Linked DNA regions of Homo sapiens. The protein of the gene in region 1 interacts with the protein of each later gene in a biochemical or structural test. Each region holds a gene or a part of one and is shown on either strand. Other genes may lie near its edges.

Evidence for each region.
Region 2: the proteins of RNGTT (region 1) and RNMT form a complex in vitro, tested with the Homo sapiens proteins (one study listed by BioGRID).

What each region holds. Positions count from the first base shown.
Region 1 is NC_000006.12:88,956,277-88,971,919, forward strand, and holds the start of RNGTT (mRNA-capping enzyme), read right to left. Parts: upstream 7,343-15,643; 5' UTR 7,134-7,342; coding exon 7,070-7,133; intron 1-7,069.
Region 2 is NC_000018.10:13,717,663-13,734,165, reverse strand, and holds the start of RNMT (mRNA cap guanine-N(7) methyltransferase), read right to left. Parts: upstream 7,494-16,503; 5' UTR 7,437-7,493; exon of another isoform or gene 7,301-7,436; intron 3,540-7,300; 5' UTR 3,411-3,539; intron 2,691-3,410; 5' UTR 2,649-2,690; coding exon 2,232-2,648; intron 1-2,231. UniProt on the Homo sapiens protein: Catalytic subunit of the mRNA-capping methyltransferase RNMT:RAMAC complex that methylates the N7 position of the added guanosine to the 5'-cap structure of mRNAs. Binds RNA containing 5'-terminal GpppC.

The DNA.
Region 1 (15,643 bases):
CAACCCTCCTAGATTAAATCAGGAAGAAAGAGAAACTCTGAACAGACTAATAACAAGTAGCAAGACTGAAACAGTCATAAAAAAACTGCCAAGAAAAAAGTCCAAGAAAACAAAAATAAATTAATTAAATTAAAATTTAAAAATTTTAAGTGCAGGACCAGATGGATTCACAGCTGAATTCTACCAGTCAAAGAAGAATTGCTACCAATCTTACTGAAACTATTCCAAAAGACAGAGAAAGGGAATCCTCCCTAAATCATTCTATGAAGCCAGTATCACTCTAATACCAAAACCAGGAAACAATATAACAATAAAGAAAACTAGAGACCAATATCCCTGATGAACATAGATGCAAAAATCCTCAACAAAATGCCAGCTAACCAAATCCAAAAGCATATCAAAAAGGTAATACACCATGATCAAGTGAGTTTCATACCAGAGATGCAGAGATGGTTTACCATACACAAGTCAATAAATGTTGGCCAGGCGTGGTGGCTCTTGCCTGTAATCCCAGCACTTCAGGAGGCCGAGGTGGGTGAATCATTTGAGGTCAGGAGTTCAAGACCAGCCTGGCCAACGTGGTGAAACCCCGCTTCTATTAAAAATACAAAAATTAGCCAGACGTGGTGGCAGGTAGTCCCAGCTACTCAGGAGGCTGAGGCAGGAGAATCACTTGAACCCGGGAGGCAGAGGTTGCAATGAGCTGAGATGGTGCCACCGCACTCCAGACTGGGTGACAGAGCAAGACTCTGTCTCAAAAATAACTAAATAAAATAAAAATAAATGTGATACGTCACATAAACAGAATTAAAAACAAAAATCACATGATCATCTCAATAGATACAGAAAAAGTATTTGACAAAATCCAGTATCCCTTCATGATTAAAACCTTCAGCAAAACTGGCACAGAAGGGACGTACCTCAAGGTAATAGAGCCATACCTCAACATAATAAAAGGCATCTATGACAAACACATGACCAACACTATACTGAATGGGGAAAGGTTGAAAGCATTCCCCCTGGGAACTGGAACAAGACAAGGATGCTACTTTCACCACTTCTATTTAACATAGTACTGGAAGTCCTCACCAGAGCAATCAGGCAAGAGAAAGAAATAAAGGGCATCCAAATTGGTAAAGAGGAAGTCACACTGTCACTGTTCACTGATGATATGATTGTATACATAGGAAACCCTAAAGACTCATCCAAAAAGCTCCCAAATCTGACAAATGAATTCTTTAAAGTTTCAGGATACAAAATCAACGTACACAAATCAGTAGCACTGCTATGCACCAACAATGGCCAAGCTGAGAATCAAATCAAGAACTCAATCCCTTTTACAACAGCTGCATAAAAAAAATAATAACAATAGAATACTTAGGAATATACCTAACCAAGGAGGTGAAAGATCTCTAAAAGGAAAACTACAAAACACTACTGAAATAAATCACAGATGACACAAACAAATGGAAACACATCCCATGCTCATAGATGGGTATAATCAATACTATGAAAATGATCATACTGCCAAAAGCAATCTTTAGATTCAATGCAATTCCCATCAAAGTACCATCATCATTCTTCACAGAACCAGAAAAAGCAATCCTAAAATTCATTGAACCAAAAAAGAGCCCAAATAGCCAAGGTAAGCAAACAAAAAAGAACAAATGTAAAGGCATCACATTACCCAACTTCAAATTATACTACAAGACTATAGTAACCAAAACAGCATAGTACTGGTATAAAAATAGGCACACAGACCCATGGAACAGAATAGAGAACCCAGAAAGAAAGCCAAACACTTACAGCCAACTGATCTTTGACAAAGCAAACAAAAGCATAAAGTGGGGAAAGGACACCCTATTCAACAAATGGTCCTGGGATAACTAACAAGCTACGCGTAGAAGAATGAAACTCATCTCTCACCTTATACAAAGTCAACTGGAGATGGATCAACTCAAACTTAAGTAAGATCTGAAACCATAAAAATTCTAGAAGATAACATTGGAAAAAACTCTTCTAGACATTGACTTAGGCAGAGTTCGTGACCAAGAACCCAAAAGCAAATGCAACAAAAACAAAAATAAATAGATGGAACCTAATTAAACTAAAAAGCTTCTGCACAGCAAAAGAAATAATCAGCAGAGTAAACAGACAACCCACAGAGTGGGAGAAAATCTTCGCAAACTATGCATCTGACAAAGAACTAATATCCAGAATCTACAAGGAACTGAAACAAATGAGCAAGAAAAAAACAAATAATCCCATCAAAAAGTGGACAAAGGACATGAACAGACAAAAGAAGATATACAGTTGGCCAAGAAGCATATGAAAAATGTTCAACATCACTATCAAGGAAATGCAAATTAAAACTACAATGAGATACCACCTTACTCCTGCAAGAATGGCCATAATTAAAATATCAAAAAATATTAGATGTTGGCATGAATGTGGGGAAAAGGTAACACTTTTACACTGCTGGTGGGAATGTAAATTATTACAACCACTAGGGAAAACAGTATGGTGATTCCTTGAAGAACTAGAAGAACTACCATTTGATCCAGCAATCCCACTACTGGGTATCTACCCAGAAGAAAATAAGTCATTATCTGAAAAAGCCACTTGCACAGGCATGTTTACAGCAGCACAATTTGCAATTGCAAAAATGTGGAACCAGCTTAAATGCCCAAGAACCAATGAGTGGATAAAGAAAATGTGATATGTATATATACCATGGAATACTACTCAGCCATAAAAAGGAATGAAATAATGGCATTCATGGCAACCTAGATGGAGTTGGACCCCATCATTCTAAGTGAAGTAACTCAGGAATGGAAACCCAAATATCCTGTGTTCTCACTTGTAAGTGGGAGCTAAGCTATGAGAATGCAAAGACATAACAATGATATAATGGACTTTGGGTACTCAGGGGGAAGTGTGGAGAGGGGGGATGAGGGATAAAAGACTACTACAGTGTACACTCCTTGAGTGACAGGTGCACCAAAATCTCAGAAATCATCACTGAAGTACTTATCCATGTAACCAAAAACCACCTGTCCCCCAAAAACTACTGAAATAACATAAAAATGTTTTTTAAAAAGATCTTTACTAAAGATCTCTATTTGAGCAATCAGGATCTTAATATCTCCTCCAACCTGCTTCTCTCTCAGTAAGCCCTAATAATATCAACTATCTCATGTGCATAAGCCAGACATTTGAGACTAAATTTTGACCCTCTTTCCCTCATTCTAAATACGACATCAAGTTCTGTCCATTTTCCCTTCTTAATATCTCTCAAATTAGCCTTCTACTCTTCATCTGTCACTTTTAAACTATCACTATTGTCTTTCACCTGGACTACAACAAGTTCCTAATTAGTCTCTCCATTTCCACTCTTTTCTCCATCAATTCATTAAACACAGAAAAGTCAAAGTAAGCTTTTAACTTGGATTCAAATAATCTCATCTCGATGCTGAAAAAAAAAACTGCAATTGTATGCCACTGAAAATTTAAAGCATATAAATATTAGGATACCTTATCACACCCTACTTGCCTGTATGATCAGGCTATTCTCCAACCTCTTAACCTCACTTACATCTTCCAGAACAAAGACACTTTTTCAGTCTATTATCTCTCCCATCATCATCCTATCCTAACAGAAACTTTCAATAACACCCCCTGCCAACTATTTATCTAGAAAACTTCTATTTACTGAAGATAATTCATGTATGACCTTCTCTGGGAAGTCTCACCTGATCTCCTTCTTCCTTCCCATCTCTTCTTCCTCAACCTCAAAGAATTAGGTTTATTACCTCTGATTCCCATCATATACCACAATAGAGTCATTGCTACATTTTTTACAACAGAACTGTGCTTAAAATGGATGGTTTGCTACTCCCATGAGACTCTGCTTTTTAAGGGTAATATATCTTAGCCATCTCCCTAGCACCCAGGACTAGCACAAAGTAGACATTTAAATATTTGCTAAATAAAATGACTTCAAAATCACCATCACTATCACCATCACACTATCCTGAGTACCTGGGACCACAAGTATGTGCCAATGCACCTGGCTGTGTCTCATATTTACATTCCCACAGTTCCTAGTAAGCTCTTTACATAGCAGATATGAAATAATTTTATGTTGAATGATATATCTTTAAGAAACTAGGGAGGGCTGGGTGCGGTAGCTCACACCTGTAATGCCAACACTTTGGGAGGCCAAGGCAGGCGGATCACCCGAGGTCAGCAGTTGGAGACCAGCCTGGCCAACATGGTGAAACCCCATCTCTACTAAAAATACAAAAAAGAAAAGAAAAGAAAAGAAAAAAAGGAAAAAGGAAAAGAAATTATAAGTTTGTTTTCTTCCAAGTATTCACCTGAAATCTATTAACTCAGAAGGAGGAAAAAACAGTTCTTCAGAAAATAAAGCTTGGCCCTGTCTCCAAGAGCTCTCTCTCATTGCAAGTCTGGTTTCATCAGAGAAAGTGACTTCACAGAGAAACAAATTATATGTAGTTAGTACCATTTTCTTTCTGATTCAGGAAAATTATGAACTTCTAGTACTAGTAAAGTGAATCCTAACATTTACAACATATAAGTTTGAGCAGCCATAACATTTTCCTCAATATGCAAAATATCAAAGAAATTACTGTGATGGTTAATACTGAGTGTCAACTCGATTGGATTGAAGGATGCAAAATATTGATCCTGGGTGTAGAGGGTGTTGCAAAGGAGATTAACATTTGAATCAGTGGGCTGGGAAAAGCAAACCCACCCTTAATCTGGGTGGGCACCATCTAATCAGCTGCCAGCATGGCTAGAATATAAAGCAGGCAGAAAAATGTGAAAAGACTTGACCGGCTTAGCCTCCCAGCCTACATCTTTGTCCTGTGGTGGACGCTTCCTGCCCTCAAACACTGGATTCCAAGTTCTTCCATTTTGGGACTCAGACTGACTCTCCTTGCTCCTCAGTTTGCTGACAACCTATTGTGGGACCTTGTGATCGTGTGAGTTAACAGTTAATAAACTCCCCTTTACGTCTGTATGTGTGTGTGTGTATGTATGTGTGTGTGTGTATATATATATATGTACATATATTTCCTATTAGTTCTGTCCCTCTAGAGAACCCTTACTAATAAATTACACGATAAGTACAAATTACTTTTTTTTTTTTTTGAGATGGAGTCTCACTCTGTCACCCATGCTGGAGTGCAGTGGTGCAATCTCAGCTCACTGCAACCTCCGTCTCCTGGGTTCAAGTGATTCCCCTGCCTCGGCCTCCCGAGTAGCTGGGATTACAGGCACATACCACCACGCCATCATAGCTTTTTGGCTATTCATATAACTTATTTTGTGAAGTGTCCAAATTTTTTGCTAGTTTTTAAGTCCTTTGAATTTCTTCTGTATAATACATTGATGGTGGGACTATCAAGTGTTACCACTTTGGAAAAGAGGTTGGCAGTTTCTTAAAATTCTTAAAACATACACCTACCATATGATGCAGCCATTCCTCTCCTAGAGACTTACACAAGAGAAATGAAAGTATATGTCCACACAAAGAATTGTACATGAATGTTCACAGCAGGTTTATTTGTAATAGCTAAAAACTGGAAATAACCCAAATGACCATCAATAGATGAACAGGTAAACAAATTGTGGTATACCCAGAACAATAAACTACTACTCTGCAATAAAAAAGGAATAAACTATTGATACATGCATAATCTGGATGAGTATCAAATTAATTATGCTGAGTGAAAAAAGCCACACACACTTCCTTCCACCCCAAGAAGAGTACTCACTATATGTTTCCATTTATTTAAAAATTTCTAGAAAATGCAAACCAATCTATAATTACAGAAAGCAGATCAGTGGCTGCCAGGCGAAGGAGGGATTTAAAAAGGGGCAAGAGGAAACTTTGAGGGGTTTCATGGTTGTTTCCTAGGAAAGAGATATATTTGTGTATATACAGTCAAAATTTATCAAACTGTACGCTTTAAAGCTTATTGTATTCAAGCTCAATAAAGATGAAAAAAACTACAAGAAAAATAATTAAAAAAAACAAAAACCCGGCCAAGCGGGGTGGCTCTCGCCTATAATCCCAACACTTTGGGAGGCCGAAGTGGGAGCATCGCTTGAGTCCACGAGTTCAAGACCAGCCTGGGCAACACAGTGAAACCCTGTCTCCACAAAAAATAAACAAAAAAATTATGGCCAGGCACAGTGGCTCACGGCTGTAATCCCAGCACTTTGGGAGGCCGAGGCGGGCGGATCACTTGAGGCCAGGCGTTGGAGACCAGCCTGGTCAACACGATGAAACCCTGTCTCTACTAAAAACAAAAATTAGCCGGGTGTGGTGGCACGCGCCTGTAATCCCAGCTACTTGGGAGGCTGAGGCAGTGAGCCGAGATCACGCCACTGCACTCCAGCCTGGACGACAGAGAGAGACTATGTCTCAAATATATACATTATAAATATATATATACTTTAATAAATAAAAAAATTAGCCGGGTGCGGTGGCAGGAGCATGTAGTCCCAGCTACTTGGGAGGCTGAGGTGGGAGGATCCCCAGCCCGAGCAAGAGACCCTGTCTCACAAGAAAATAAAAATAAAAAACTAACAAAAACACCCTCCAGATTCCCAGTCTCAATGTGACCCCATTTCACCGCTGGGAACCGCCCCTTCCCTCCTTAACCCTCCTCCATCTCAATACTGATATTCATCCCTTCTTTCGAGGGGAAGGTTGAACCCTAACAGGTTCGCAAACTACTAAGACTCAAAGTACGCCCACTGTATTCCTGGATCCTCACCTCCTGCCACCAACCTCCTGTCTACCTTCACATTCGCACAGTTAGCCTTGCAGGAATAGTAACAAGTGCCCCCCATCCGCCGACCATCCCCTCCCGTTCATGTTCCCATTCATCCACGAAGCGTAATCCGACGGAGCATATCCCGCTCCTGAAATACCACTAATGGGCACAGAACCACCAAAAGCTGAGCTCCTCAGTCGGCCCACCCCCGGGCACGTTGGAGTGTGGGGATTCGAACGCCCCCCAGTCCAGGTTACCTGCCACCGGCTGGCCGCGCCGGGGACAGTTCAGCCACCGCGGCGGGATCTTGTTGTGAGCCATGTCTTGGGGCTGCGCAGAGCTGCCCTCCCTCACCAACGTTCACCGCGCCTTTGGAGCCGCCTCCCCGTGGTCCGGTGCACACCGGGGTCCGAGACACCCGAATCGCAGCCGTAATCTGAATTCCAACCTCTCCGATCCGGGTAACGTCAGGGGCGGCGCGCCACTTTCATTCAGGATCAACTCCACAGCTCCAGGAGAACCCACAATGCACCGCAACTTCCGCCCCCGAAAGCCCCGCCCCCTTTCCGAGGTCAGAGGGAAAGAAGAGGAAGCTCAGCGGAAGGATAGCAAAGAGTTAAGGACGCGACGAATGGGAGGAGCGGGCCTTCTCTCGCCCCACTCGGCACCGCCCCGCCCCGCCCCGTCCCGCTCCACGGACGCGCCCGGACGCTACTGGTTCGCCTTTGCGCATGTGCAATTGCCCTCGTACCGAACTCCGCAGGACGAAGCGTGTATTTTTTTCCCATCCAGACAACCTAGAGAAACCCAAAAAAGAGGGAAGCCAAGCGCCTTTCCATGCGTAGATTGCCCGCCACTTCCGTTAAGGCATCTATTTTACTGATGAAAAGAGGCCTTCTGAGCGTTACCACAGCTCAAGCTTGGCGTCCCAGCCGGATCTAGGTTTGATTTGCAATTAGGGAAAGTTGTTCAAGGGAACAAGTCTTAGGAGAATTCTAAGGACATGAGATTGGAGTACCAGAAATGGGGAATTTTTCTTTTGGTGAGTACTTACGAGGATCTATGAAGCTTCTGAAATTAATTCCAGAACACTTAGAGTTTTGTTTGTACATTTCTGGATCAAAGTTTCAAAGCATACTGGGGAGTTTGAGAGGGTCCATGTCTCCAAAAAAAGTTACTAATTAATGTGGTATAATTGACAAAGGTAGGAATTGATCAGTGGAGAACCTCTTCGTGGCGTTGTTCTCCTTGGCCTACCAAATAAACAGTGCCTTTTATTTTCCCTTCGAGTTAAGCAGAGGTGCTTGAAAAATTTTTATAAATGCCGTCCTTTAACGAGCCTTTCCTTTGTTACCAGATTAAAGTGTTAAATATAAAGCTGGATGATGGCGAATCAATTATAATGTAGTTTGGCTTTAAACACCAATGCTATATTGGAACTGCAAGAACGTAAGGCTGCAGGGAATACATTTTTAAAGCGTCGGTGGGGAACTTTCTGGGACGCTCAACCCCCTGAATGCCTGGACCCCCTCAGTAAGAGTCCCATCAATAGAGGCAGTCCAACAGCAATCTCTCTGAGGCAGCCTGAGTTAGGTCACACTTCTGGTCTGTCCTGCTGTTGCATCTGCTCAGAACTGTTAGTGAAGGTGTAAACTCCTCCCCTGACAGAACAAGATAATACCCAGTTTCCTTTAAGGCCATCAGTCTACCCAAATAATCTCCGATGAATTCCCTTTTCTGCTGATAGAGTGTGTACCATGCCCAAAGTGGTAAAAACCTTCCATCCCCAGACCCCCTCCAAGGATGGGAAAGGTGAGCCTGATCCTGGAAGAGTATCTTACCTTCCCCTTCTGGGGATGACTCCCCTTGGTGACTCCCCTTCCCACACACGCTATACCCAGTAGCTCAGTCCTAGGCACACAGAAGCTTCATACCACTGGCGAGCAACTGTTATTGGCTGTAAGGCAGCAATGTGCACTGGATTTTTATTCTGCTATCCAGTTATGCCCTCTCCATACTCATTGCCACAGAATTGGGAGGACCCTGTGGCTACCTTTTGTCCACAATAGAGAGTAGAGTAGGAGAGTGGCATCCCGATGAGCAGGCAGTTTCTCTCTGCCTGTCAGGAATGCCTTGCCTGATGTGTGTTTCTGCCTATATTGCTCCTAGTCCCAAGTTTCTACTACTCTGTGAGAAGAAAAATAGATGCTCACAGACAGACCAACATGATTCCTCCCCCGCTTCCTGGAACCCCTGACACCCTCCCAGATATGTCTTGATCTCCTCTTTATCAGATGTAGATTCTCTTCATTGGTGAGTCTTTCATCAAACATCCATTTTGCCCATAAGGAAGAGTGTGTACATGTAAAAAATAAGATTGAACGTTCTCTTTTGGCAAAAGAGAGAGATCTTATCTGTCTTCCCTTTTCCTAGGACTTTTCCTTGAGAAAAACCTATATTTATTAATCCTTCCTCTTCACTTTGATATGTAGATAAATCTTTTGTTTTTGCAGACAGGGTCTCACTTTCTCACCCAGGCTAGAGTGCAGTGGGCATGATCAGGGCAGCCTTACTGGAGCCTCAACCTCCCAAGCTCAAGCAATCCTCTCACCTCAGCCCCCAAGGAGCTGGGACTACAGGTGCAGGCCCCCACACCCCACTAACTTTTTTATACTTTTTTCGTCTGGAACTCCTGCAAGCAGCCCTCCCACCTCAGCCTCCCAAAGTGCTGGTAAGACAGCCAGGTGGGAAGGATTCCTTGGCAGAATCTCCTTTTGACCTGAGCACTGGGAGGAATGCACCCTGTGGTGGAGCCTTGGGAAATTTGCGCCATTTGCAGTGGGGAGGAGCCTGGCCCCTCCTTTTCCTAGGTGGAACCTGGGATTCAGTCTACCAGGCAGGAAGCACTCTGGCTTTGGGGAGAGTCTCTGTTTCCCTTTTTTTCTTTTTGCCCAATAAATTCCATTCTCACCCTTCAAGGCATCTGTGAGCCTAATATTTCATGGCCATGTGACCAGGACCCAGCTCTTAGCTGAACTAAGGAGAAAGTCGTACAACAGCTTTGGCACCCAATGTGGGGCTTGAGAAGCGGTTGAGTGACACGGGGACTCAAAACTTTTCACTGTCATTTCTAAGCCTTTTCATGCGTGGACTTCTGAGGGTAGGGAAACCATGCCCCCACTCCCATCGCTCCCTGGGGTCAGGGGCCTTTCCATGGCCTTTGCCTTCGTTTTTTGGGAAGGATAGGCAAGTCGCAGCTCCTCATTCCCTCTCCCCTCCCAGCTGGGGCTGGGGAATGCCACATGTCCACAGCATCTTCCCCTTCCCTGGCCAAGGCTCAACTCCATCTGATAAGCTTCTCTCCCTGGTAGAGGAACCATTTGCCTAAGAATAAAAGGTTTATTCCCCCAGGCATCCTTTTTTCTTCACCCCATCAACAGTTAACTTTTAAACCAGATGTTTTTTTTCTTTTTCACTAGGCTAGGAATGATAAGGATCCCTGTTTATATTCTCCTTAAAGTTTGGTTGTGAAAAAGGATCTTATGGGGACTGGTTTTCTTCTGCCTGTCTGTGTAGCTATATATATGTTGTGTACATGATGTCTATGAAAAGAGCTCAAAGGCCAGGCACGGTGGCTCACACCTGTAATCCCAGCACATTGGGAGGCTGAGTCAGGCAGATCACCTGAGGTCGAGAGTTCAAGACCAGCCTGACCAACTTGGAGAAACCCCATCTCTACTAAAAATACAGAATTAGCCAGGCATGGTGGCACATGCCTGTAATCCCAGCTACTTGGGAGGCTGAGGCAGGAGAATCACTTAAACCTGGGAGGTGGAGATTGCACTCCAGCGTGGGCAGCAGGAGCAAAACTCCATCTCAAAAAAAAAAAAAAAAAAGGAGCTCTAAGGCCAGGTGTGGTGGCTCATGCCTGTAATCCCAGCACTTTGGGAGGCCAAGGCAGGCAGATCATTTGAGAGTCAAGAGATTGAGACCAGCTTGGCCAACATGGTGAAACCCTGTCTCTACTAAAAATACAAAAATTAGCCAGGTGTGGTGACGTGCCTGTAGTCCCAGCTATTTGGGAGGCTGAGGCAGGAGAATCCCTTGAACCCAGGAGGCAGAGGTTGCATTGAGCTGAGATTGTACCACTGCACTCCAGCCTGGCCAACAGAACAAGACTCTGTCTCAAAAAAAAAAAAAAAAAAAAAAAAAAACTCTAATTGGCCTAAAGGAAGACAAGTGCTTAGATCATATATTTTTTAAAGGGAAGGTAAAAGATGTGGTACCTTTCAGTTCATGTGACTTTAATCTTTGAGAAATAAAAACAGCCTTAAAGATTATTGGTAAAAAACAGATGTCATCAAAATGTAAATAGGTGGACTAAATTATGCAGGTTAGGTACTAGTCTTGCTAAATGTTTTAATGTTATAAACTGCTTTTTGAGTTTTGAGAACTATCTGACTTGCTGGCTTCACAATTGATAAGGCCTGGGGACATATGGAACTAACCATGTCATTAATTATGCTAGAAGGAGTCAAAACTTCGCTGCACCTGGCACACAATTAAAACAACTTACCAGGTTTTACATTAAAGTTAAAATTGCTAGGAGTTACCATTATAATGTATAATTGAAACTACTGAAAATAGATTTACATGCAAGGTGTGTAAGAACAGTAAAATGTGTTTTTTAGTAAAAGGTAATGGAAGGCATGGAAATGTAAATTTTTGCCTAGGGTTAGGGAATTGTTTTAAATTAGGTAAGATAAAGCTAAAGGTTTAAACAAGTTCTGGAAGGTTAAAATTAATCTTGCAAAAGAAATGCTGTGTGTGAACATTGGCTAAATTCAAAAGTAAATTGAGCATTGAAATAAAAGCACAACAAAGTTTTCTTAAGGCACTAATCTGCACTTTAGCAAAATTTGTAAAGGGTTATAAAAAGTTTTTGCTTCTTTAAAATTTCTGAGTAATTTTGGCAAAATAAATAATTTATGGAAATCTGGAATTCTATTTCATAACATCAAGTGTTTTAAACCACTAACATATTTAACAGGCTTCCCAAAAATCAAACTTCAGTTTCAAAATTGTCTTTCCTGACACCTGGCTTTTCAGAGGCTCCAGAAGGACCCTAGAGTGTCCAGAAGAGAAATGTAAACAGGATTAGTTGACATGTTTAGGTATGTGGGATTGCCAAAATAATGTTCAGTTTTCTTTTTTTCTTTTCTTTTTTTTTTTTTTTTTTTTTTGAGACAGAGTCTCACTCTGTAACCAGGCTGGAGTGCAGTGACACGATCTCAGCTTACTGCAACCTCCGCCTCCTAGGTTCAAGTGATTTTCCTGCCTCAGCCTCCCAAGTAGCTGAGATTATAGGCACCCACCACCATGCCCAGCTAATTTTTTTGTATTTTAGTAGAGACAGAGTTTTGCCATTTTGGCCAGGCTGGTCTTGAACTCCTGACCTCAGGCGATCTACCCTCCTCAGCCTCCCAAAGTGCTGGGATTACAGGCATGAGCCACTGCACCCGGCCCAGTTTTCTTTAGGTTATATTATTGTGAATAATACTAATATATGTTCCAAAATTGTATGGGATTTCTAAAATTCTAATGTCTGAGATAACCAAACTTCTTTGTCAATTGTGTTTCTAACTGTAACTACCCTGGACATTTTGTTATTCACAGACAATTGTTGTCTTGTTTTAATCCTTTTCAAAAGATGATTTATAATGAGCTATAGAACGTTAACAGGTGCTCTCAAATACCAATTTCTGATGACTTTGGAGATTGTAACAAAAGGAAAAATGTACAAGACTCACAAAGAGCTGAAATGTTCATGAATATCAAGCAAATCAAGAACTAAATTGACTGAACTCAGAAAGCTGAAGCAATCTTTTTGACTTTTGCTTAGAATATTGCTGACCCTTATTTTTCAGAGTCAAGGAAACTTACTTTGAACTATTTACACCCTTTAATAATTGAGTAAGGTATACTCCTGTGAACAAAATTTGGAGTATCGGGGGAACCCACCCCCAGTATTTCAATGAAGGTGCTTTCTATTTTCCCTAAGTGTCGGCCAGTCTGAGAAATAAAGAGAAAGAGTACAAAGAGAGGAATTTTACAGCTGGGCCACCAGGGGCGACATCACATACCGGTAGGTCCATGATGCCCACCTGAGCCGCAAAACCAGCAGGTTTTTATTAAGGACTTCAAAAGGGGAGGGGGTGTATGAACAGGGAGTAGGTCACAAAGATCACATGCTTCAAAGGGCAAAAAGGAGAACAAAGATCATATGCTTCTAGGCCAATAAATATCACGAGGCAAAGGGCAAAGCAAAGACCACAAGGCAAAGGGCAAAATCAAAAACTCCTGATAAGGTTCTATGTTCAGCTGTGCACATATTGTCTTGATAAATATCTTAAACAACAGAAAACAGGATTCAAGAGCAGAGAACCAGTCTGACCTCAAATTTACCAGGGCAGGGTTTCCCAATCCTAGTAAGCCTGAGGGTACTGCAGGAGACCAGGGCATATTTTAGTCCTTATCTCAACTGCATAAGACAGACACTCCCAGAGCAGCTGTTTATAGACTTCTCCCACCAGGAATGTATTCCTTTCCCAGGTTCTTAATTATTAATATTCCTTGCTAGGAAAAGAATTCAGCGATATCTTCCCTACTTGCTTGTCCGTTTATAGGCTCTCTGCAAGAAGAAAAATATGGCTCTATTCTGCCCTACCCAGCAGGCAGTCAGACCTTATGGTGTCTTCCCTTGTTCCCTGAAAATCACTGTTATTCTGTTCTTTTTCAAGGTGTACTGATTTCATATTGTTCAAACACACATTTTACAATCAATTTGTACAGTTTGACACAATAGTGGTCTTGAAGTGACGTACATTCTCAGCTTATGAAGATAATAGGAATAAGAGACTAAAGTAAGACAGGCATAAGAAATTATAAGAGTTTTATTAGGGAAGTGATAAATGTCCATATTAAAATGAAATCTTCACAGTTTATGTTCAGAGATTGAAGTAAAGACAGGCATAAGAAATTATAAAAGTATTAATTTTGGGAACCGATATATGTCCATATTAAAATGAAATCTTCACAATTTATGTTCCTGTACTGCGGCTCCAGCCAGTCCCTCTGTTCGGGGTCCCTGACTTCCCGCAACATTGGAGCATATTTGTCTCTCTGCCTGGCTTCTCCAGAATTTGGAAACTATCTGTGAGTATTCTTAACTTATGGCAATATAGTTGTTTGCATCAGCGCAGTAAGAATCCATTTTTCTTTTGCAACAGGACACAGTTGGAGAAACTGGTTATTCTACCAAGGCTTTGACTGAAGGGTATGCTTCTCTTTCAGGAGTCAGTCTCAACTTGCAGAGCCAATAAAAGCCCCTTGGGGAAAAAAAAATGGCCTCATATCCTTGTCTACGCAGTCCCTGTACAGGGTTCCTGACCTGTGGTCAGTAAAGAATGTCACTTTCTAACAGGCCTAGGGGCTCCAAGTTTATCTTAGGACTTTAAAAGGAGAGGATCACTCAACTCACAGGTATTTAAGGATACAAACCCAAGGCTGGGCTCAGCTTTAAAAGGCCTTCTCTGAGATTCCTTGTAAAACAGATTTCTATCAAAGCCAATCCAAAAGGCCTGTATAGGAATAATTACTCTTGCTGCACTTTATGCAGGCCAAGTATAAGACTAAAGTCTATTTTGCAAACAACTCAGTCCTACCATAATTTTTTTTAACAAAAATGAGGACTGGAGAGAGAGAAATTATGCTTCAAAACTTATCATACATTTGTCATTAAATTATAAACTCATTAGTTGTCTGTAAGTTTTTGCCTACATTTTAAACTAACCCTGCTTGTTCCTGTGAACCAACCAGCAATCTCTGGCTGTAGCCCAGAAAGAACAAGAGGGATGGGTAATGTAAAAATCCAGACCAATATTCTAGTTCTGACCAATTATCCTTCAAATCCTGCCAGGTGATGGGAATAAATAGGATGCCCATCACTCAGAGGTTTCCTTTTTGGGAAAGTAAGACCAAGGGAGCTAACCAAAGTCAAGCACGATGTGCCCAAATCCTAAGCAAGCATAACTATAGCCACCAGTTATCTGGGTGTGTCACAAGACATCCCTTTCTCTCCCTTGTTGGAGGAGGACTCAGTTCCACAGTTTCACCTTAGCATTTGGCTTATGAGAAGGAGTTCATGCAGTCCCCACCCTAGACACATTTTTGTCCCAAACTCAATTCCAAGCTTTGCGTTAAAGCCCTAGGAAAGAAAACTGGATCTGAGGGATGCAGAGGCAGACGATAACAGAAGTTTAAAGGCACAGCACAGGTGAGCATGGCTGATTCCTGCCGATTAAGCCAAGCCTCCTGTTTCATGGATAAAGATCATGCTAGTATCCATGGCATAAATAAGGTCTAGGGAACTCCAGACTACTGACAGTAGGTGGGATAGAAACAGTGGTGAGATCAGATAATTCCTATTTTCTAGGCCCTCCTTGCTTCATGGGTGCAAGCCACTTTGGCACCCACGGCAGCACCTGACAAGGTCACCGGGACGCAGGGATGCAAAGACAGAAGTGGGAAAGAGAATGTTCTTCCCTCTCTCCCTCACATACCTGGGGTATCTGCTAGGAAGAGAAGGGAACAAGAGACTCCTGCTCCCGTTCTTTTAGATGGGTAGCCATTCATCTTCAGTCTGTACCTTTTTCAAATGCATCCTGAACCCCTGAGACTCCTTTAAAAAGCTCCTTCTTTTTTCCTCTCTCCTCCTCTGTCCTCTCTTCACAGATAGGTAATTGCATCTTCGTACTACAGGACACTCCCCT
Region 2 (16,503 bases), on another chromosome or scaffold:
CATGGTGGAAGGTGAAAGGCAGGTCTTACATGGCGGCAGGCAAGAGACAATGAGAGCCAAGTAAAAGGGGAAACCCCTTATAAAACCATCAGATCTCGTGAGACTTATTCACTACCATGAGAAAAGTATGGGGAACTGCGCCCATGATTCAATTATCTCACATCAGGTCCCTCCCACACATGTGGGAATTATGAGAGCTATAATTCAAGATGAGATCTGGGTAGGGACACACCCAAACCATATCACCTTATTTTGAAAAACATCTCTAGGTTTAAAATTTTCATTGTGATATTTCATCTGCATTAATTTTAGTGTCAATGTCTTAATAAACCCAGTACTCTTCCAGAGTTCTGATTTATTCAGTTCAATAAATGACAGTCAATGTTTGGTGTTTCTACAAAGGAATAAATTAGGAATAAGCTATAATTACATTATTATTATAAAGCTGTTGTGAAAATTAAATAAGATAATGTATATAAAGAGATTAGGCCTGGGTGAGGTGGCTCATACCTATAATCCCAGCACTGTGGGAGGCCCAGGTGGGAGGATCACTTGAAGTCAGGAGTTTGAGACCAGCCTGGCCAACATGGTGAAACCCTATCTCTACTAAAAATACAAAAATTAGCTGGGCATGGTGGTGCACACCTGTAATTCCAGCTACTCAGGAGGCTGAGGCAGGAGAATCGCTTGAACCCAGGAGGTGGAGGTTGCAGTGAGCCGAGATCGGGCCACCGCACTCCAGCATGGGCAACAGAGCGAGACTCTCAAAAAAAAAGAGAGATTAGAATTCAGTAGGCTATGTGCAGCGTTAGTGATTTCTATTATAATAATGCTATTATATATGTTACATGTAACCCAACAGTTTTCAATTTGTGCTTCCTGAGGCCCTAGAAATCCTGTAAAAATGCCATGATAGGTAAAGGGCTTCGGATCCTCCTACCTCCCTTTTCAGCCAAAGTGCTGAATCTCACTGATGTGCTGAAAGGCCTTTCAAACAAATCCTTGACCTATTTTACGTAACAGGTTTAAGTGTAAGATTTTCAGTTGAAAAAGGGGTTCTGGGGCTAGTAAAAGTTTGAAAACTATGTTTAAAATACAAGCTCCCAGCCAGGCGCAGTGGCTCATGCCTGTAATCCCAGCACTTTGGGAGGCTGAGGTGGGCAGATCACAAGGTCAGGAATTCAAGACCAGCCTGGCCAATATGGTGAAATCCCATCTGTACTAAAAAACACAAAAATTAGCCAGGCATGGTGGTGGGCACCTGTAGTCCCAGCTACTCGGGAGGCTGAGGCAGGAGAATCGCTTGAACCCGGGAGGTGGAGGTCCCGGGAGGTGGAGGTTGCAGTGAGCCGAGTTTACACCACTGCACTCTAGCCTAGGAGACAGAGTGAGACTCTGTCTCCAAAAAAAAAAAAAAAAAAAAGGGGGGGCTCCCCTCTGTTACAAGAATTCACATTCCATTGATGACAAAAGCCTCACTATCAGTCACTTTCCTCATAAGGGCCAATGGCAGAATTTTATTTACTCATTAAAGTAATCTTTTCCTCTAACTCCAGATTCTGCCTCAAATTCCTTTCTAATGTGGTACTTCCAGATGAAAACAACTTGCCCTATAATATCTTTGCTAAATATTAGGCATTTGCATTCACTTAACTAAAACAGTATGTAAAATACATTAATAAGAAGCTGAAAACTGTTTAAGGAATTACATTAATAAAGGGATGTAAAGCTAGGTATAATTTTAAAAGTTATCCCTTTAAGTGATAACCTCTGACAAAAAAACTAGAGCTGAACACCTAATAAAAAAGAAAAATAGGTAAATCATTTGGATCTCATACTCTAGTCTTTTTAAAAACGCCGGAGGACTGCTTATGCCCAGGAGGTTGTGGCTGCAGTGAGCTTTGATTACACCATCACACTCCAGCCTGGGCGACAGTGCAAGACTCTGTCTCGGAAAAAAAAGTTTCTAGTTAAATATTCTAAAATAAGATAAACATTATCTCATTAGAAAATAAAAACAAACAAAAACTAAAAAATCTATCTCATTAGCAGGAGATGTTTCACCTTAACAGAAATCATAAGAGTTAAAAGCCTACTTTGTCTTAGGACCATATCTATTAAAAATAGAACATTCTTAAGCTATTATGTAAAAACCAGTATGAATCCACGGGTGTTCCACATTTCAAACTTACATATTCTATTATGAATAAATGAAAATACACTGAACATACTTTCTGCTTTTCAGGAACATCCTCAAGTGCTATTTTTCTCTTATTTTGAGTGCCATCTCCAGTAGAAGATTTATCTTTTGGAACATCCTCAGTTTCTCTTTTTCTTTTCTTTGAATTGCCTTCAGCATCACCACAATCTTTTTCCTCTGGGACAATTTCAGGATCAAGTTTTCTCTTCTTGGATGGAGTGTCTTTCCCACAACTAGAACTTTCCTTTACAAGATCATCTTCAAACTCTTTTCTCTTTCTTGCTATGTCTACTTGCCTACAGACAGAAGTCTTTTCAGAAAGCCCAGTCCCAGAAGCTGTTGTGTTTTCATTAATATTGAATGAAGACTCTGTTTCAGAATTCACTGACGCTTTTGCCTGTTCAAGAGACATCTTTTCATATTCTTCTGCTTTTGCAGAATTTGCCATTTATGATTACTTGAATTGATGGTAAAACTTCATGAACCAACACTAGAATAGGAAAAAAATTGGTATTACTTGTAAACACTAAGACTTTAAAACAATTTTTTTTTTTTTTGAGACGGAGTTTCACTCTTGTCGCCCAGGCTGGAGTGCAATGGCATGATCTCGGCTCACTGCAAGCTCCGCCTCTGGGGTTCAAGTGATTCTCCCGCCTCAGCCTCCCCAGTAGCTGGGATTACAGGCACCTGCCACCACGCCTGGCTAATTTTTTGTATGTTTAGCTGAGACGCGATTTCCCCACGTTGGGCAGGCTGGTCTCTAACTCCTGACCCCAGGTGATCCGCCTGCCTTGGCCTCCCAAAGTGCTGGGATTACAGGCGTAAGCCACTGCGCCTGGCCTAAAATAATTTTAACTAGAATTTGATCAACTAGGAGTTTAAAAAAATCTCATTGTAGAGAGCATATTAAAAAATGTTAACTGATACTATGTATGAATTTCTGAATATGGCAGTACTAATTATAATCCCCCCAAAATTCTATAATCTTATTCATAAAAGTCACTGTTGGCATTAAAGCTGACAAATGAAGTGGCGATACACATGCACTAGTTCCATTTTGGTTCTGATCCTTACTCTATAACCCTGGTTCCCAAACTGCATGGTTGGCACCATAACAAACAGGCACCACAGAACCTAATGTGGAAGATATCACAGAAACTACCAGCTTTAAGTACAGCACAGTTCCAGCTGAATAGATTACACTACATACCTTTCAATGACTTTGTGAAGCTGAGATTTTGGTATCACAGAAAATCAAGGTGAAACAGGAAATGAGGTTGGTGGTGCCTATCTGATTTCGAGGCTTGAAGTTGTACAGTACCCAATAGGTTCACACATCCTGTTAGTAAGGGATTGTGATTAATCAAGAATAAAACAGAAACATTACCTTTCCCCCCAATTTATGTGTGTTAATTTTTTAAACAGACATAAAGTTGTTAGACCATAAATACTTTTAAATTCTTTGGGGTAAACTACTTAATAAATGGAACTGTTATATTTCTTTTGGCCTATGGACACTAAGGGCATCAAGAACAGAAAAAGTTTGGGATTCTACAGCAAGAATTCTGAAATCGTATTTCATAATGGGTGTTCCAATTAGGTAGAAAGTGAAGAGAGTAGAAATGGCTTTAGACAAGTTTCAGGACTCAGCCTGCAGTTTGATGACCATTAAGTCTCTTTCAAATATGTTTTTAGACCTACATTAAGATGGGAAAGCGAGAGAAATAACTGAACTATCTATTGGGCAAGAATTATGGTGGTTCATTTATTAAGCCATTCAACAAATTTAGTGACCTCCTACTATGGAGAAGCTCAATGTAAATCATGTTTTCAAGATGTTTATAGCTTATATACCACTATTAAAATGTTAAGCTTTCGCTGGGCACAGTGGCTCACACCTGTAATCCCACCACTTTGGGGGAACGAGGTGGGCAGACTGCTTGAGCTCTGGAGTTCGAGACCAGGTTGGGCAACATGGCAAAATCCCGTCTCTACAAAAAATAGCTGGGCATGGTGGCACATGCCTTAGTCCCAGTTACTCAGCAGGCTGAAGTAGGAGGATCACCTGAGCCCAGGAGGTCCAGGCTGCAGTGAGCCATGATTGTGCCACTGTACTCCAGCCTAGACAACAAAGTGAGACCCCACTTAAAAAAAAAAAGCTTTTTCATGAAGGAAGTGTTTGTGCTTAAAAAAAAAAGTAAATAAATAAAAAGCCTTTTGGATAATGAAAAAGAATAAGAAATCAAGTTGCTTAAAGGAATGGGTAACAAGTCACTCACTATGAATGGGTAAGGGTTTCAATGGTTATTAGTTTTCATGACCCACCATTTGAGGTAACAAAATACCAAGAAGTACCAAATAGAACTGAATCAGAGAACAACAACAACAAATCAGAAAAGTGATTTTCAGAACAAATACTTAAAATGATTATCTAGAAAAACTGGATACCAACTTATCAAATTCCTATTTCTCCTCCTCTGCCATTGATTTCCTAATGGAAATTGGCTTTAAATTCAAATAAAGAAATGTGACTTATCTTTAGCTATATTTATTACCTAAAATTAATATTGAGATTTAAGCATGAATTTTACTTATGTCACTTTCATGATATCACAGATGTGACATAATAAAAACATAATTAGGTCAGAAGAAATGACACAGCATTCCAGATGACCACAAAAATAAGTAAGAACGTTTAAAACCAAGCATCATGTTTACAGCCAACTTGTTCTCAACAAAGGTGCCAAGAACGTACATAGTGAAAAGACAGTCTCTTCAAAAAACGGTGCTGGGAAATCTAGACCACTCTCTCTCACCATATGCAAAAATCAAATCAAAATGGACTGAAAAATTTAATACCCAAAAGTATGAAACTACTTGAAGAAAACATTGTGGAAATGCTTCAAGACACTGGTCTGGGCAAAGATTTTTGTGGTAAGACCTCAAAAGCACAGGCAACAAAAGCAAAAACAGACAAATGGGATTACATCAAGCTAAAAAACTTCTGCACAGCAAAGGAAACAAGAGTGAAGAGATAACCTAGAGAATGGGAGAAAATATCTGCAAAACCATTCATCTGACGGGATTCACAACCGGAATACAGAAGAAACTCAACTCAATAGCAAAAAAAAAGAAGCAATCCTACTACAAATGGGCAAAAGATCTGAATAGACATTTCTTAAAAGACACACAAATGGCCAACAGGTATATACGTAAAAAATGCTCAATATCAGTAATATCAGGGAAATGCAAGTCAAAACCACAATGAGATACCATCTCATCTCGGTTAAAACGGCTTTTATCAAAAAGATTTTTAAAAAATGGATGCTGAGGCCGTCACGGTGGCTCACACCTGTAATCCCAGCACTTTGGGAGGTGGAGGTGGGCAGATCACTTGAGGTCAGGAGTTCTAGACCAGCCTGGCCAACATAGTGAAACCCCGTCTCTACCAAAAACACAAAAATCAGCCGGGCATGGTGATGTGCGCCTGTAATCCCAGCTACTCGGGAGGCTGAGGCATGAGAATCGCTTGAACCCGGGAGGTGGAGGTTGCAGTGAGCTGAGATCAAGCCACTGCACTCCGGCCTGGGCGACAGAGCAAGGCTCCGTCACACACACACACACACACACACACAAAAAAAAAAAAAAAAAAAAAAAAAAAAAAAGATGCTGATGAGGATGCAGGATGCAGAAAAGGGGGAACACTTGTACACTGTTAGGGAGAACGTAAATTAGCACAGCCACTAATTTACATACTGGGAAAAGTATGATGGAGGTTCTTCAAAAAACAAAAAATAGAACTAGTGCTATTGAGATGAGTTTCTTCTATATTCTGGTTGTTAATCCCCTGTCCGATGAACAGTTTTGCAAATCTGGGTACAGATCCAAAAGAAGGGAAATCAGTATATCTAAGAAATATCTGCAGTCTCAAGTTTATTCACAATAGTCAAGATATGGAATCAACCTAAGCGTTCATCAACAGATGAATAAAGATAATGTAGCATATATACACAATGGAATATTAGTCATTAAAAAGAATGAAATCCTGTCATTTGCAACAACATGGATGAAACCGGATGTCATTATGTTAACTGAAATAAGCCAGGCACATGAAGACAATATCATGTTGTTACTCATGTGGGAGCTAAAAATGTGGACCTGATGGAGGTAAAGAGTGGATTGGTGGTTACCACAGACTGGGAAGGGTAGCAGGAAGAGGAGCGGGATGAAGAAGAGAAATTGGTTAATGGGTACAAAAAACCCCAGAAGAAATAAAATCTAGTGCCTGATAGTACAGTGGGGTGGACACAGTTAACAATAACTTATTGTGTAGTTCAAAATAGCTAAAAGAAAAATTGGAATGTTCCCAACATAAAGATAAATGTTTGAGATGACAAATATCCCAATTGCCCTGATTTAGTCGTTACACATTGTATGCATGTATCAAAGTATCACCTGCACCTGCAAATATGTGCAACTTCTATGTATCAATTTAACAAATTGGGGGAAAAAAAACCCAAACCAAACTCAAAGTGGAATAATGAAAACACTCCATAGGGAAGAGAGCTGTCCCTCAGAATCTTCAAGAAACCTTCGAAAGGTGGTCGACTGACATGGAGATGGACACGCGATAAATAACCACACGAACATTTCGACCCGGCTTTCCAGTCACACCTCCGAAGCAAGCTATGTCTCTGCGTCATTTCAGCTCCTCAGGGTACGAGCGAGCAGGCCGCCAGGGCCGCCGGGATAAAGCCCAAGCGGGATAAGCTCTAAGTCCCGACCCGCCCGCTTGACCCTCTACCACGGGGCCCGAGAGGACGCACAGAGGCGAGAAGGGACTTCTCCAGCCAAGTTCACCCCCTCCGTCATTAGCGCGGCCTGTTACTCAACCTCTGGTTCAGGTTTCCGAAGCGCCGCTGAAGACAAACCTGCGGACCCCACGCCCCTCCCCAGCACGGCCCTGGGGCGCGAGCTGGAGCAGCTCTTCGAGCTGCTTCTCCCACCCGGGCTCGCCCAGTCTGGAGGAGGAACAGCGCCCGCCCACCCCAAGGAGTTCCCATTTTCCTTGGGACTGAGGACACAAGGCAATAGACCCACGCGTTGGGTAGTGAAGCACAGGGCTAATGCGAAGTGAGCCCATGTCAGGGGTGGGAGTGCCAGTTCCACCCCTCCACGGCGGCCGAGGGACAAACACAAAGAAAGGAAGGGCCGGAGTTCCAGCCGTCACACTCACCAGCACAGCCAAACGCGATTCTGTTTGCGGAAACGGCGGCCCGCGCCACGCGTGTCTGCTTACGTCACTTCCGGAGGTGCGAGAGTCACGTGGAGACGGTCAGGCGAGAGTGCCGCGACGCACGTCCTCCGCGCCGGAACTACGAGTCCCGACGTGCCGCGCGCGGCATGCAGAAGCTTCACTGAGCGGGCACTGGAGGTCGCGAGCACGTTGCTAGTGGGCGCGGCTGGCGGGGCCGGGGGCGGCAGGGGGCTAGCGTCCGGCTGAGCCCGGCGGGTTCCTGCACGCGGACCCACGCTTTGTCGGGCTGCTCTGCTGAGTGACACCGCCGTGGCATCCGAGGAGCTGTGGTCCAGCCTGCGCGGCGGGAAGCGGCGGCGGCGGCTCCAGCGTCCTAAGAGGTAGCATGGGCCCAGGCCTCTGTGGGGCAGCGGGAGGGGTCTAGAGGGCACCTTCAACCCTGGGCGTGTGTCCGGGAGCTGACTCGCGGCGCGAACCCGGCAACTGCTCCGCGTGCGCCGCTCTTCGGGCTGTGGCAGTGTACGACTGCCAGACGGGTCGTCCACACTCGCCGACCCCACAGACCCCGGCGGCCGAGAGAGGTCCCCCCGCCCTTCCGGGTCGAGCCAGTGTCCTGGCAAATCTTGCTTTGGGACTGTTTTTCAGCCTCCTTTGCTGTAACCCTTCACCGTGTTCTCCCCCCTTCTTCCGAAGCCAGTTGAAGAGGGGCCCGGAAGCGCCCGCGTTCGGAATGGTTTTTAAAATTAGCAATTTCTTATTAGGGACTGGCAGACTGGTCCTTACCGCCGTGTTTGGGAAGCCACAAGAGGCCATTCTTACCTGTTAGATTCTGAGAAAAGGGACCGCCTATACCTCTTCTTGACAAATACCTAAGGATGCATTAGTCTGCGTTGGCTGAACTTGGCATGGTGTGGTTTGGGGGAGACAACACACTTTTTTTGGCCATCACCCCAGATTTCTACTGGGGAGTGAAAGCGCCTACTGTACTGAAACTCGAAAGCTCCATAGTTGAGGACTTTCAACCTGAGATCAGGGTCAAAACTACCTGTGGATAGATTATTGAAGCGTGTGCATATTAACGTCGTGCGTCAAGTCCCCACCTTCCAAGGTTGTAAAACTGATCAGATTTACAATCCGTCTTGAATTACTCTTTACCAAAATTGATCCATTTAAAACAGCTTTGAAAATGTGCTTTACCAGCCTTCCTTCTTGTCAGTAGGCACAGGTATATTAATGAATAGACCTGGCTTTGGGGAAGGCAGCATTTGCAGCGTTGTGCTTTCCAATCTAATCACTTCTAAATTGTGGGCATTAGCCCATTTGAGGTTACAAACTTTGAACCAAGAATGAGGCCTATTTTTCACAAATAAGGATGACCCATCAATTTCTGATGACTGCTTGTATTTGTTATTATATGAAATGAGGTAAGTTGAGAATTAATCTCATTACATGAATATTGACAACTGCAAAAGTGTAGGTCTTACAGATCGAATGCATTATAGGCATATACAAGCATTAGAACCAGGCAATTACATTCCCTGTTCCTGATGCTTAAGTTTCTTGAGATAATTGCTGTTGTAATTTTACAGAAAATGAGTGTAATTTTGACTTTTAAAAACATGTTTTAATGTTTTTAAACACCGGGTGCAGTGGCTCACTTCTGTAATCCCAGCCGTTGGGAGGCCGAGGCGGTTGGATCACGAGGTCAGGAGTTTGAGACCAGCCTGGCCAACATGGTGAAACCCCGTCTCTACTAAAAATACAAAAATTAGCCAGGCGTGGTGGCGCGTGCCTGTAATCCCAGCTACTCAGGAGGCTGAGGCAGGAGAATCGCTTAAACCCGGAAGGCGGAGGTTGCAGTGAGCCGAGATTGCGCCGTTGCACTCTAGCCTGGGCGACAGAGCGAGACTGTCTCAAAAAAAACTAAACAAAACAAAAAAAGTTATTAGATTAAAAGCCTCTTAACTATGTGTTTATGAAAACTCCACGATGATGGGATATATAGAGATTACATTTTTCAGTTTTTATAAAACTTAACTAGAAGTTGTGTAAATTCATTTGAGAATAGAGGGGAAGGATTCTTGAAAGCAGTTAATGTAAGTAAATGAGCCAGATAAAAATGATTTTAAAGTTACCATTGGTGTTATTTTTCCCTCATTATTGCCTGAGTAATCTCTGGTTTTCTGGACATTAAAATAATAATAGCTAATACTCGAGTACCTTTTAGGTGCCAAGGTTAGTGCTTTATTCATTTGCACTCGTTTAATTCTAACCGAACCCAGTGGTATAGTTATGAGTGTTTGTTTTACAGATGAGGGTTAAGTAACTTGGCCAAGATCATGCAGCTTGTTAAGTAGTGGGATCAAGATTTGGACCCAGGCAGTCTGGCTGATTGACCAGACTCTGCTAATAATGAAACAGTGCTGGCTAGAAGATCATACTCAGAACTGGACGTTGCCTAGCAAATAGTAGATTTTTCAGAAAGTGTTTTGATACTTCTTAATGCCTGGGTTATGATGTCCCGAGAGAAAATAGTTAGATAAGGATGTTATCTTGCTGGAATGTGAGCTCCACCAAGACAAGGAAAGGACCTGCAGGATTTATTTCAACCCATTTGTAAGAAAGTGAGAGTACTTCTCTCAGAGGTATAATTTTAAAGTGTGATTTCTGTTGTAGAGTTGAAGATCATATTTTTGAAACATAGAGATTGTTTTAAAAATGTAGAAACAATGTTATAGTTTCCTAAGATAGTGTTCTGTGAAGAGAGGTGGTTCATGGAAGCTTTGTTCCTCCAAATAGTTTTGGATGAAGGACTTTTCCTCTGTTCCACTCAGGAAAGTGTTCCTACTGAAATTTCATTGTCTTTCTGGAACAAATAAAATATTATTGTTTAAAAGGTTTTTCCTTCAGTTGAAAATAAGATTTTGTTGAGTAATACTGTGTGTGATGATTAGTTTTATTATGTCAGCTTAGCTAGGCTATAATACCTAGTTATTTAATCAGATACTAGTTTGGTTGATGCTATGATGGTATTCTGAAGACGTGGTTAACATCTATAATCAGTTGACCTAAACTAAAGGATATTACCCTAAATAATGTGGGTGGACCTCATTCAATCAATTGAAGGCTAAAAAAGCCAAAACTGAAGTGTCCTGAAGAAGACAGTATTTTCCTCAAGACTGCAGCATCAATTCCTGCCTAAGTTTCCTGTCTGTAGATCTACCCTACACATTTTGAAGTTGCTATCCCCTACAGTTGTGTGAGCCAGTTCCTTAAAATACCAATATCTCTGTATCTGTCTATATGTAGATGAAGATATTTATGTTTTTATCTACATCTATATATTTTTTCCTATCAGTTCTGTATCTCTGTAGAGCCCTGACTGATTCAAATTTGGGTGCTGAGAGTGCTTCTAGTGAGCAGAATCTTAAGGATGAGTTTTCTGAATTGATTATAGTGTTTCTGGAATTGGTTTTCCAAACTGATCAGATTCAAAGGCAGTAATGAGTATTCCCTGTAGAAAAGAGGGCACTGATAGTCCCTGGTGTGATATGGCAACAAAGATATGCAAAAGATCACTATTAGATACTCCCACTCATGCTTATAGACAAGATTCAGAATGATCAGGTATTTGATACCTTAGAACATTTTAATCGAATTAATGAGTACAATAAGATAGGCTGGTTGCTTTTAACTGTACTGGGTAAAGTGAGAAAAGAAAAGGATGATCCCAGCTACTCAGGAGGCTGAGGCAGGAGAATCGCTTGAACCCAGGAGGCGGAGGTTGCAGTGAGCCGAGATTGCACCACTGCACTCCAACCTGAGTGACAGAGTGAGACTGTCTCAAAAAAAAAAAAAAGAAAGGAAAGAAAAGGGGAGCTTAAGGCTTCAAATTCCCGATTGAAGCTCCACATAAGTGACCTGAAAAGTTTCTGTGTCTGCCCTAAAGAAACCCGTATCTCTTGTAGCTACAGAGCTGAGGTTGGTGAAAACCAAATCCAGAGTCTTATCCTGTAGGTGGCTGAATTACAGTGCTAACTGAATTCCCTTCTCACCTTGGTCTGCTATTAAAATGAGGGCATTGATTGGGAAGGAATGGGATCTGCACATTTGGAATAGGGCCATATGGGAACATCCTGATGAAGCTGGGGATGTTAAACTCCTAAATTTGACTCACTCTTTTTTGCCAGTAGAAGCAGTTCTTCCACCTCTGAGGAGGTTAACTCTGCTTTGCCTGAAGAACCTGTAATGACCTCCCTTGAGGTAGTTACCTTGCAAGACATTGCCGGTTTTCCTCAGGAATCCGTGAAGAGCTCTGGGGTTGCTTTTCTCTTCAGGTCAGAGATTGCAGTGGGAGCTGTTGCCACTGACTGGGGGTCCTTAGCTGCAGCAGGGATGGTTGGATCTAGGATGGCAGGGGCTATGTGATCACCAAAGAGTAAGTAGGTGTGTTGCCATCATGGGGGACAGCGGAGTCAAAGCAACAATCTGAACAGCCTGACTTGGGGGTCCTAATTGGGTAGGTGGTCATGGTGTCCCTAGAAGAGAACTCGTTGGGCAGTCTACTGAATTCTGACTTGATCTCTATAAGCAGAAGAGTTCTAGGTCAAGTGAATGGAAGCTTTACTTTAATTACCAAAGAAAGAGTCATGGTCCCTCAATCAGTTCCCAGATTTGAGTCATTTTACAGACTCAGAACCCCCTGACTGAGGGGAGGCTGGATCCTTTTGAGGAAGGACCCCATTGCGCTGCTAAGAATTTATACCGTTAATTTTTTTCTCAGGTTTCCCAAAGGGACCTATGGCTTATCAGGGTAAGTGTGCACTGGAGAAGAGGAAATAATTAGACTTCTCACAGATTACTGAACTCTTAAGTCTGAACTGACACTAATTCCAGGACACTCAAAGTGTCATTTTGGCCCGCCATTCAGAGTAGGGACTTGTTGAGGTTAGGTGGTCAATGGAAGTTTAACCCAGGTTCTCCTCACAGTGGGTCCCCATATTCATCCTATGGTTACTTTGCCAGTTCCAGGATGCATAACTGGTATAGACATACTCAGCAACTGGCAGAATCCCCACACTGGTTCCCCGACTTGTGGAGTGAGGGCGATCGTGGTAGGAAAGGCCAAGTAGAAGCCACTAGAGCTGCCTCTTCCTGGAATAATAGTAAGCCAAAAGCAATACCGCATTCCAGGAGGAATTGCAGAGATGAGTGCACTTAAGGATGCAGGGGTGATGATTCCTGACATATTCGCATTCAACCCTCCTGTTTGGCCTGTGCAGAAAACAGATTGATCTTGGAAAATGACAGTGGATTATCATAAACTTAACTGAGTAGTGACTAATTGCAGCTGCTGTTCCAGATGTCATTTCATTACTTGAGAACCTATCCCCTAGTAACTGGCATGCAGTTATTGATCTGCTGAGTGCTTTGTCTTAGTATCTGTTAGTAAAGATCACCAAAAGCAGTTTTCTTTCAACTAACAAAGCCAAAAATACACCTTCACTGTCCTACCTCGGGAATGTCAACTTTCCAACACTATGTCATAACAAGATCTCTGTGATCTTGTTATGAGTTGAATTGTGTCTTCTAAAAATTTATGTATTGGATTCCTAGCCCTTAGTACCTCAGGGTATGACCTTATTTGGGAATAGGGTAGTTAAAAATGTAATTAGATAAGATGAGGTCATACTGGAGTAGGCTGGGCCCCTAATCCAACACAACTGGTGTCCTTATAAACAGGAGGAATTTGAACACAGACATTCACACAGGGAGAATGCCATATGAAACTGAAGTAGAGGAACACCAAGAAATGTCACACATTTCCAGCAAACCATCAGGAGCAAGGGGGTAGGCATGAAACAGATTCTTCTTCACCCCCTTTGAAGGAACAAACCCTACTGACACCTTGATCTTGGACTTCTAACCCCAGAGCTGGAGACAGTACATTTCTGTTTTGTAAGCTCCTCAGTTTGTGGTTCTCTATTACAGCAGCTGTAGCAAACAAATAGAGACCCTGATTGTGCTTCCCTTCCACAAAACATCATACTGGCCCATCACATTGATGACATTATGCTGATTGGACCTGGTGGGCAAGAAGAAACAACTACTCTAGACTTACTGGTATGACATTTGCATGTCAGAGGGTGGGAAATCCAACAAATATTCAGGGGCCTTCCACCTGTGAAATTTCTAGGGGTCCACTGGAGTAGTGTAGGGCATGTTCCCACCTATAACAAAAAGAGAAGCAAGGTTTAGTGGGCCTCTTTGGATTTTGGAGATGACAAATTCCTCATTTGGGTGTGCTACTTCAGGTTGTTTACTGAGTGACCTAAAATACTGCTAGTTTTGAGTGGATCCCAGAACAAAAGGCGCCTCTACAACAGGTACAGGCTGCTGTGCAAACTGCTCTGCCACTCAGGCCATATGACCCAGCAGATCTTCTGGTGCTTGAAATGTCAGTGGCAGATTGAAATGCTGTTAGGAACCTTTTGCAGGCCCTATAGGAGATACAGTGTAGAACCTTAGGATTTTGGAGCAAAGCCTTTCCATCCTTTGCAGGTAACTGCTCTTTTAAGAAACAGCTTTTGGGCTTGCTACTGGGCTTAATAGAAACTCTACGCTTAACCGTGGGCCACCAAGTTATGCAACCTGACTAGAAAAATGACTAGAATATTTCAGCAGTTAAGAGCACAAGCAGATGGCATGTGTTCAAATCCTGGTTATGTTATATTTACTAAGCATGTCATCCTTGAGTAAGTGGCCAAACTTTGTGTTTTGATTTCCTCATGGAGCGATTTTATAGAATAAATGAGATGATACAGTGCTTAGCACAGAACCTGCTAATTTTTAGCTTCTCTTAACACAACTGAAACTGCTACTGCAATGTCTTGTGAAGTCATTAGTCCATGCCTTTAAATGTGATTGTAGAATTTTTTTGCCTTGGTACAGCAGAAAAAATAGAGTGATTTTTTTTTTTTTTAATTCATGTAAACCAGAGCAGAAGTTTGAAATAGTGAACAGTCTTGTAGGCATTATGTGCTTTCAGGTTCTGAGTTTATTACTTCTGAGAATTAACCATAGTAGCAGTGGTCTATGACCTCTGTGGGTGAAAGGGTGGCTGGGCTTTAAGCATGTGCAGCAGTGGGCAAAGAATGGAGGTGAGGGAAGAGGCATCAGACATTAGGAAGGGATCCTCCCGGAGAAGTGGAGGTGGGTGGTTAGATTTTGTGGGTGCCAATGGCAAGATGAGTCCTATTAGAAAGTCTCATTGATAAGAAAAAATTGTTTTCAAGGCAGACTTAAAAATTAGGGCTTCCCCATTTTTACTTACTTCTTCTACATTGCCTTTGTAACTTCTTGGACGTGATAAATTGAATTAAACGTGGTATTTTATTTGGATTTCTTGATTTTTAATGTAAGCATGAATTATAGTAACTCTTCCTTGCTATCTGAAATACTGCAATTCTTGTTCTAGTTAAGCTGCATTGTAATTTGACTCATTTCTTAAAATTAGAGGAATTAGATAAACAGTGATGGGTTTGCAATGTAGTGTTTGCCAAATGAATGTCATATATAATGTTAAGAAAAATTTTATTTGTGTGGCACACTTTATAAAATAAAGCAGACCTATGTCAAGTTCTAAATGCAAATTTTTATTTTACTTTTCTTGCCATCTTCATCACTGTAAATGCAAGTTTTTAAAAAGATATTTTAAAATTGGACCCAGAATACAAGAGCTCTTTATTGCAACAATGGCTTCTGGTACTCTGATGATCAAATGACATTTTCTGAAATATGCTTGATACAGTAAACACTGACAAAACTAGTTAACCCCACAGAGAAGGTTACTAGTATTTTTCACCAAAGCCAAGCTGAAACAGGTTCTATTGCGATTTACTTGGTGTAAAATATATGTATAATTTCTCATATGTCTTTTTTTGGTTTAACAAACATAGTCCTTATTCATCAAGTAAATTCCTATTGCTAAGCATGTTTTAGTTAACTAGTAACAATAAATTTATGTTAAAACTGATTTTCATGATAGAAGATAGAAATGAAATTTATATAGTTTGGCTCTCAATCCTTTATTTTCAGGGAAAAGACACAATTTATACATATGAGCAATTTGTGAAGATGTGGGAAATTCACTAGATTAGCAGTTCTTTTTTCTTTTTTTTTTGGCCTTTAATCAGCTATGTGATCAGGAACAAGTTATGAACTATTACATGTCCTTGCATTCTTTATCTGTAAACATAAAGGATGATACTAAGGGGCCTCTCAGTTTCCTTCCAACTCTTAACATTCTGTAGTTCTAATGCAGACAACTATGACTAAACCTAAGGTTGCTGCTTTTATACAGTTGTACTCAGGTTCTGTGTGGCCTTCCATTTTTGTAGTCCCTGTAACAAAGACTTTGAGAAGGTAAAAATAATCCTTACTCATGCAGTGGGAAGGTTTCTTAAGGAGAGTAGGCTTGTATTTTCTGTTGCTGTGTAACAAATTACCCCCACATTTAGCAACTTAAAACAACACAGGTTTATTGTCTCACAGTTTTTCTGGGTCAGGAGTATGGGCACATCTTAGCTGGTTTGCTGCTTAGCATCTCAAAGTGTCAAGCAGGCTGCATTCTCATCTGGAGGTTCAACTGTGGAAGAATCTGTTTGCAAACTCATTGAGGTTGTAGGCAGAGTTCATCTTTTGTGCCTATATGAGTGAGGGCGCTGTCTTCTTCCTGTTGACTGGTGGCTTCCCTCAGGGACTAGAGGCTGTTCCCCGTATGCGGCCCTGTCCGTAGGCAGTTCATCATACGGTACCTTGTTTCCTTGAGGCCAGCAGAAAACTCTGTCTCCAGTCTGCTAAGATGAAGTCCTTTCCATCTTTTCTACCATTTAGTCTACTATACCATAAGTCTTTTCTCGAGCCTGTTAGACTGCTTTTTAAACCTGACATTCTGGTGCATTGGGCCCTTGCAGTTTTCATGCAAGTTGATTAACCTTTATGTTACCAAATGACTCACTGGAGTATGCTTTTTGCTCTCTAATCC